2 linked regions of the Homo sapiens genome follow. The protein of the gene in region 1 purifies or fractionates together with the protein of each later gene. This does not show direct contact. Each region holds a gene or a part of one and is shown in the gene's direction. Other genes may lie near its edges.

Evidence for each region. Proteins that work in one complex are often made in the same cells at the same time.
Region 2: the proteins of KIR3DL1 (region 1) and PCDH1 purify together in Homo sapiens (affinity purification with mass spectrometry; one large-scale study listed by BioGRID and IntAct). This does not show direct contact.

What each region holds. Positions count from the first base shown.
Region 1 is NC_000019.10:54,825,435-54,829,860, forward strand, and holds part of KIR3DL1 (killer cell immunoglobulin-like receptor 3DL1 isoform 1 precursor), read left to right. Parts: intron 1-3,926; coding exon 3,927-4,031; intron 4,032-4,426. UniProt on the Homo sapiens protein: Receptor on natural killer (NK) cells for HLA Bw4 allele. Inhibits the activity of NK cells thus preventing cell lysis.
Region 2 is NC_000005.10:141,868,411-141,871,910, reverse strand, and holds part of PCDH1 (protocadherin-1 isoform 2 precursor), read left to right. Parts: intron 1-2,283; exon of another isoform or gene 2,284-2,306; coding exon of another isoform or gene 2,307-2,394; intron 2,395-2,479; coding exon 2,480-3,342; intron 3,343-3,432; exon of another isoform or gene 3,433-3,500. UniProt on the Homo sapiens protein: May be involved in cell-cell interaction processes and in cell adhesion.

The sequences.
Region 1 (4,426 bases):
GTTTTAGAGAAGTTCCACTTGCCAAGGAATGAATTACTGTTGGTCATGAAGCAACCCTGGCTGACTCAGCAGAGCAAGAGCCTTGCCGTAACAGAGAACAGAGCTCATGCACGCACACTTCGACTCACTGACTCATTCAGCCACGGCCCCATGCTCAGGCTGTGCAGTTGGAATCCTTTCCTATTGTTGCCATAACAAATTTCCACAAGATTCGTGGGTGAAAACAAAACGGTTTTTTAATTATCTTACAGTGCTGTAGCTCAAAGTAGGAAGTGCATCTTACTGGGCTAAAATCAAGGTGACAGCAAGGCTGCCTTCCCTCTGAGGATTCCAGGCAAGAATCTGCTTCTCACTTGTCCCAGCTTCTAAAGGCTCCCAGTTCCTTGGCTCCTGGTCCCCTTCCTCCTTCCTCAAAGCCCACAAAGACTGGTCACATCTCACATGGCATCACTCAGACCCTTCTTCCTTACCACACCTCTTTCTCTGAATGCTGCTCTCCCTTCTTCCTTATCTTTTGAAAACTTGGGGATTCTATTGGGTTCACCAAGATGAAAATCCATCATAATCTCCCGGAAATCATTCAGGATACCCTTGTTTTAAGTTCAGCTGACTAGCAACCGTAATTCCATCTGCAATCTTCATTCCTTCTTTCCATGTAAAATAAGATATTCACAAGCTATGGAGGCCAGGACAGGGACATTTTGGGGTGGGACAGCATTCTCCTGCCTTCCACGAACGGTGAACAAGATGCATTTGGCCTCTGCTCTTGGGACACTGATATTGCAGATGGTTAAATGGGAGGACAGAAAATGAGTGCACAAGTGGACCAATAAATGAATGATCCATTGGGAAGCATCTGTGCATGAAATCTATTTGTTTGTTCGTTCATTTATTTATTGAGACAGAGTCTCCCTCTGTCTTCCAGGCTACAGTGCAGTGTCACGATCTTGGCTCACTGCAACCTGCGTCTCCTGGATCCAAGTGATTCTCCTGCCTCACCCTCTCGAGTAGCTGGGATTACAGGCAACTGCCACCATGCCCGGCTAATTCTTTTTGTATATTTTTTGTAGAGAGGATGTTTCACCATGTTGGCCAAGCTTGTCTGAAACTCCCAACCTCAAGTGATCCGACCATCTCAGCAACCCAAAGTACTGGGATTACAGGCGTGAGCCACTTTGCCCAGCCAGAATTCAAAATAAATAATAGATAATGCTGAGTGTATAATTTTGGGTGACAGAGAAGGTCTCACTAATCAGATATTTGTGACATTAATGAAAAACACGGATTGAACCCCTGAAAGATTGGCGGAAGGATTTTCCACACACAGCTGTCAGCCGTGAAGGCAGAAAGCTGAAAACAATCTGATGTGGAAGGAAGAGGCTCTGCCTGAAATGCTGGGAATGAGGTGGGGAGAATGACAAGACGACTGTGGAGAGACGGAGAGCACACTGGGTACACAGGAAACTAAGGAGCAACAAGGAGTGTGTGTTTGACACTCACAGCCATTGGATTCACCTCGGGGTAGCCAGGAATCCCTACATGATTAATAGTGACTGACATGAAAATAAGGGAGGCCCAGGTGCGTAACTGGAATCTAGGAGACAGTGGAAAAGGCAATTGCCGCCCCACTGGTGAAATGTGGTGCTGATTTAGACCCTAAGTGGATGAAGCAGATGGATATAAGCTATGTTTGGGAGGTAGAATCATTTGCAGGGAGGGCTTGCTGGGTTTGAGTTTCCTAGTTGTTTAATCCTTGCTAAATTAATTTCTTTCTGAGATTTATTCCTCCTACACATAAATCAATACCTGGCAAAGGAGTGACAGATATATGAGGGGTGGTGGAAATGAAGGGACCTATTATAGCATAGTATACAAGTCTGTGAACGGTGGCTCACTCCTGTAACCCAGCACTGCAGGAGGCTAAGGCCAGTGGATTCCAAGAAGTCAGGAGTTCGAGACCAGCCTGGCCAACATGGAGAAACCCTATCTCTACATGGTGAAACCCTATCTCTCCTAAAAATACAAAAATTAGCCGAGCATGGTGGTGCATCCCTGTAATCCCAGCTCCTGCTCTGGAGGATGAAGCAGGAGAATGACTTCAACCCAGGAGGTGGAGGTTGCAGTGAGTGGAGATCGCATCACTGCACTCCAGCCTGGGTGACACAAGGAGACTCCATCTCAAAAAATAAAAATAAGAAATGCATAAATATAATAAAACACACACGAATGACAAAGGCACCTGAATTCCCATCATCATTTTTCTATTTCTCTATAATTACTTCTTTGATCCTTTATCTTATCCATTAGGCAATCAGCCTAAAACCTCTTCCGTATTTGGCTTTCTGTGAGCATGAGATCATATAGAAAATGTGAAAGCCCGCTGAATCCTCCAGCACAAATCCTGGAATAGAGAAAGTGCTCTGGTCATCACAAAAAAAACTTGCCCCCTCACCCAAATCCCCCATCTCACCCCTACTTCCAATCACCTGTGGAAATACAGATAGATCATGGGGAGGTAAATGCTAATACTCCTTGGAGTGAGTCCAGATCTTGGAATCAGAGATCAGTGCCAGCACTAGCTCCTGCTCCCCTTTCCTACTAATTCACAGGAGGACAGGTGGTATTGAAGCAATAGATAGTCGAGGGGGTGGTCCTTCCCCCAGCCTCTGAGGTAGAACAGCAGCCTAACATGTGTCTCCCGAGATCACAAAGAGTAGCACATTTCACACGGGCTTCAACACTATTTTCTGGCTGTTTGACATAAGAGAATTCTACTTCGCTTTTTTTATATTGATTTCACTTTTGTTTCCTTTTCTTGGAGAATGCAAGTTGTTTAACTCAAGAATGCCGTGGATGTAGAAATCCTAAAGCACATTCGCTGTGTATCAATCCCAGTCCAGTCTTCCCAGAGAAGACTCTAAACACCTCCTGGACTGCACCTGGGCCTATGCCAATTCCTATCACTCACCGTCACTCCAGGGAGACAGAACACACAGAGAATACGTTACATAGGCAGGTTCATTACTAACAGATAAGCAGCGAGTGACAACAGAAGCCTACATTTCAATGTGAGCCAGTTCCCCAAGGCTCAGAAAAGCTGCTCGAGACATGTGGAGTCACCCCATTTGCAGTGTAGCTGGGGGAAGCCAGAAAGCAGCCCAGCCTGGGTTTTGTACCCTGGAGCCACAGGAAGCACTCAGCTAAAGCACTGCATGACGTCCTCCTCCAGGAAGAACAGGAAGACAGCCCAGGCTGTTCTGGGACAATCCTCCTGATCTCAGGACTTTGCTGTCTTAGTCCATTTTTGTTGCTCTAAAGGAACACTTGAGCCTGGGTAACTTCTAAAGAAGAGATTGGTTTGCCTCACCGTTCTGCAGGCTGTACTGGAAGCATGGCACCAGCATCTATTTCTTATGATGGCCTCAGGCCGCTCCCACTCTGGCAGAAGGGAAGGAGGGTCTGTCTGTGCAGAGACCACAGAGATCACACGGCAAGAGAGGGAGCAAGGGGGAGGGGGAGCAATGGAGCTTCCAAGCTCTTTTTAACAACCAGCTCTCCAGGAACTAATAGAGAGGGAACTTGCTAACCCCGTCTCCTTGGGACAGCATTGATCTGTTCATGATGGATCCACCTCCATGACCCAAACACCTCCCAAGAGGCCCAACCTCCCACACTGGGGGTTAAATTTCAATGTGAGGTTTGAAGGGGTCAAACATCTCAACTAAAGTAGTTGTATCCTCAGCACGTTCCATGGTTACTATGAGAGCTATAACTGAGAAAGCAGGAGGAAGCTAGATCTCCCGCCATCTGGGTGCTTGTCCGAAAGAGATGCTGTAAGTGGTTACCTGTCAATCAAGAAATGCAAGACAATTCATATAGAGAAACTGCTATGATTAGCTTCTTACTGGTGTCTCCTCTTCTTCCAGGTAACCCCAGACACCTGCACATTCTGATTGGGACCTCAGTGGTCATCATCCTCTTCATCCTCCTCCTCTTCTTTCTCCTTCATCTCTGGTGCTCCAACAAAAAAAGTAAGTCTCACGGGGCACAGGCCAGAGAGCTCAGGGCCATGTGGGGAAGCAGGATGGGAGCACACAGCTGTGTGTTCCTCACTGGCAGGATGGTCCCTGGCCCAAGACAGGAGCCACAGAGGCAGGACTTTCTAGAGAGAGCACCAGACTCCCTGCCCCTGCCTTCAGCTCACAGACCGTTGCCTGATTCTGAACTGTATCCTCATGTCCCCTGCAGCCACTCACATCCAGGAGAAGGTTCCATGACAGGCAGAAAGTGGGAGACAGAATCAATGGGATGGGAACTCAGAGCTATTCATGGGATGGGTCCTTGAGCTCAGAGAGATAGAATGTCTGAGTCTGCTGTTGGCAACTGAGGGACCTCAGGCACCTATGGCCTCCCCCTGTTTGTTGGT
Region 2 (3,500 bases), on another chromosome or scaffold:
CATTTTACCCCAGGAAGTTCTTAGTGGTGTAGGGGAATCGGGTAAGTGAGCAAGTAAAAGAGCAGTGGTCACACAGCAAGTACCAGGAAAGGCTAAGCCTAGAGAGCAAAATAACAACAGTCATTCAAGAGCTGCCAAGTGCCCACTGTGTGCCAGGTCCAGGGCTAAGCCCTGAGGAGGTAGGAGCAAACAAAGTAGAAACTCTCCTGCTTTCTGCTCACCATCTTGGAGCAAAGACAGACAATTAACACATTTTCCAAACAGGTACACAACTACAATTGTGCTAAATGCTTTGAAGGAGTCCTTTGTTGAGTACCCACATTTAGCCCACAGTATCTCAAACACCCTAGGAAATAGGTAGTATTATCCCCATTTTACAGGTAAGGAAACTGAGGCACTAAATCTTTGCTTCAGGTCATGCAGCCAGGAAGTGAGCAGCTGGGTTTGCCTCAGACTGTCTAATGCCACAACCCTCGCTCTTCTCCACCCTGCTGCCTTACATTCGCCAAATGGTATACAGAAGCAACCAAACAAAATGGACAAATAGTCATTGAGTTAGAAGCACTGTCATGGCAGATTGGACCAGTCTTGTTTACTTCTGCATCCCAGTGCCCAGGACAGAGCCTGGCATATTGTAAATGCCCAATAAACATTTGTTGAATGCATGACTGAGTCCCTACAGTGTACCCAGATGTGCAAAGGTGCATTGTTAGGGGGCAGGGGATGAGTGAGTGTACAGAGTACTGTCCCTTCCTTCGTAGTGCTTTGTGTTTGCCTGGAAAGGCAGAGAACTCAGGAATAGGTGCACAATACTGAAGCTGAACAACACAGGCGGGCGGTGTCCCAGTCAGCCCCATGATTCATTGCCTTGGGATTGGAGCAGACAATAAGTGGCTGTGAGTTGGAGGAAGGAGAGGTCACCGTGGGCAGGAGAGGACTGTGAAGGTTTCCTGGAGGGCCAGAGCCTGCCCTCAGTGGGATTGATGTGGGGTGGGTGTTCCAGGTGTGGGGAAGGTATTCCAGGTAAAAGTGAGGAAGTGGGGAAAGGAGACTGAACCAGAAGCCTCCAAAGAAACTGCTGATCCAAAGATTTTGGATTTGAATAAAGGAGGGACTGGCCATGATTTTGTTGGAGAGGAGGGGGCATTCAAGACAGAGACAGTAGCTGGGTCTAGCTGGGATCTGCAAATGCACGACCTCAAAGCCAGGGGAGATGGGCAGAAGAAGGGGGTTATTGTTGTGATGGGGTACAGCTTGTGGTTGACTAGGGCAGAGGTTGGGAGAGGCAAGTGTGAAGTAGGGGCTGGATATACGGAGATGGATGTCAAATAAGAGCCAGATGTTCATCCAGAGACCAGAGGGTGTGGGGTGGGGGAGTGGCCAGGGAAAGGCTGCTGGTGTCATTATCATCGGCAGCTCTGTCCCAGTTAGACCTGCTGGGCTCCCTGTTGCTAAGGACAGGCCAGGGCAGCTCCCAATGCCAATTCCAGGGCTAGTCAGCCCTGACCACAGTTCTGACCCCAATCTTGACCTGTGTTCCCTTGTACGCACCTGCCCATGGCAGCAGGAGGGAGAGGAGAGGAGCCCTAGCAACTGTGCATGTTCCTGTGTGCATGCTCTGGGGCATGTGTGCATGCTCTGGGGCATGTGTGCACGCTCTGTGGCCTGTGTGCACGTTCTGGGGCATATGTGTTGGGGGAAAGTCGGGAAGGCTAACACCTACTCCTCAACCCTAACCATTTTCACAAGCCTTGCCCAATTCAAGCTGGCCTTTTATGGGGGTGGAGAATACTGGGCACCGTGGGTGATTGTCAGAAAAAGAGGATTTGAGATGTCATACCTCATGCATATGCACTGACTTGGCATCTCAGAACAAAGAGAAATGAGACATCATCCCCTCTCCCTCCAGCCAACCTTAATGGAGCCCAGTGTGACAAGTCAAGGTCCCAGGGTCTGGGGTGTGTAAGGACGTACTTGTGTCTCTTTCCTACCATGCATGTGGGGAGGGGTGCTCCAGTTGGGGATGCTCGAGGTCTCACCCTTCCACTGGCTCTCTCTCCCTATCTCAGTATCAAGGTAATTACCATCGGTGACTAAGGCAGGATGCTCGTGAGAAGGAGGTGTTGGGTGAAGCACAGAGCAGAGAGCAAGGAGGAAAAGAAGGAAAGAGGGCGGGCAGCCGGGCTTGGGCCCAGGGAGCGTCAGGTGGGTGAGGGTGTTCCATGGGCGGGAGCTGCTCTAGGCATGCCAGGCCTCTTACTGGCTCCTCCAGCTGGGGCAGACACTGCTGCTACACCCAGCTGTGGATGAGATTCAGGGATCTGAGTTTCTGGAATCGGGGTTCTGTGCTGGGACTGACTGCTCTTGTGGAGAATCGTGTGTCAGTGGGAGAGGGTGAGTATGGGGCCAGCTCTGGGCAGCTCAGGGCCAGGCTTTTCTTCCCAGCTCATGGCCTCTGTTTTGCCTCTTCCCCTTGCAGCCCTCCTGATTCTGGGGCCTCCCAGGATGGAGCACCTGAGGCACAGCCCAGGCCCTGGGGGGCAACGGCTACTGCTGCCCTCCATGCTGCTAGCACTGCTGCTCCTGCTGGCTCCATCCCCAGGCCACGCCACTCGGGTAGTGTACAAGGTGCCGGAGGAACAGCCACCCAACACCCTCATTGGGAGCCTCGCAGCCGACTATGGTTTTCCAGATGTGGGGCACCTGTACAAGCTAGAGGTGGGTGCCCCGTACCTTCGCGTGGATGGCAAGACAGGTGACATTTTCACCACCGAGACCTCCATCGACCGTGAGGGGCTCCGTGAATGCCAGAACCAGCTCCCTGGTGATCCCTGCATCCTGGAGTTTGAGGTATCTATCACAGACCTCGTGCAGAATGGCAGCCCCCGGCTGCTAGAGGGCCAGATAGAAGTACAAGACATCAATGACAACACACCCAACTTCGCCTCACCAGTCATCACTCTGGCCATCCCTGAGAACACCAACATCGGCTCACTCTTCCCCATCCCGCTGGCTTCAGACCGTGATGCTGGTCCCAACGGTGTGGCATCCTATGAGCTGCAGGCTGGGCCTGAGGCCCAGGAGCTATTTGGGCTGCAGGTGGCAGAGGACCAGGAGGAGAAGCAACCACAGCTCATTGTGATGGGCAACCTGGACCGTGAGCGCTGGGACTCCTATGACCTCACCATCAAGGTGCAGGATGGCGGCAGCCCCCCACGCGCCAGCAGTGCCCTGCTGCGTGTCACCGTGCTTGACACCAATGACAACGCCCCCAAGTTTGAGCGGCCCTCCTATGAGGCCGAACTATCTGAGAATAGCCCCATAGGCCACTCGGTCATCCAGGTGAGAGGCCCCCTCCGTATAACTGTCAGGGTGACCCACCACTAGAAATGGGAGCCCACCCAACCAGGTGAGAGTTCCCTTCACTTAGGGGAAAAACTGCCAGAATACTGTAGTGAGACCCCTTCTCCCCAAACTCAGCCAGGGGAGTCTTTCCCACC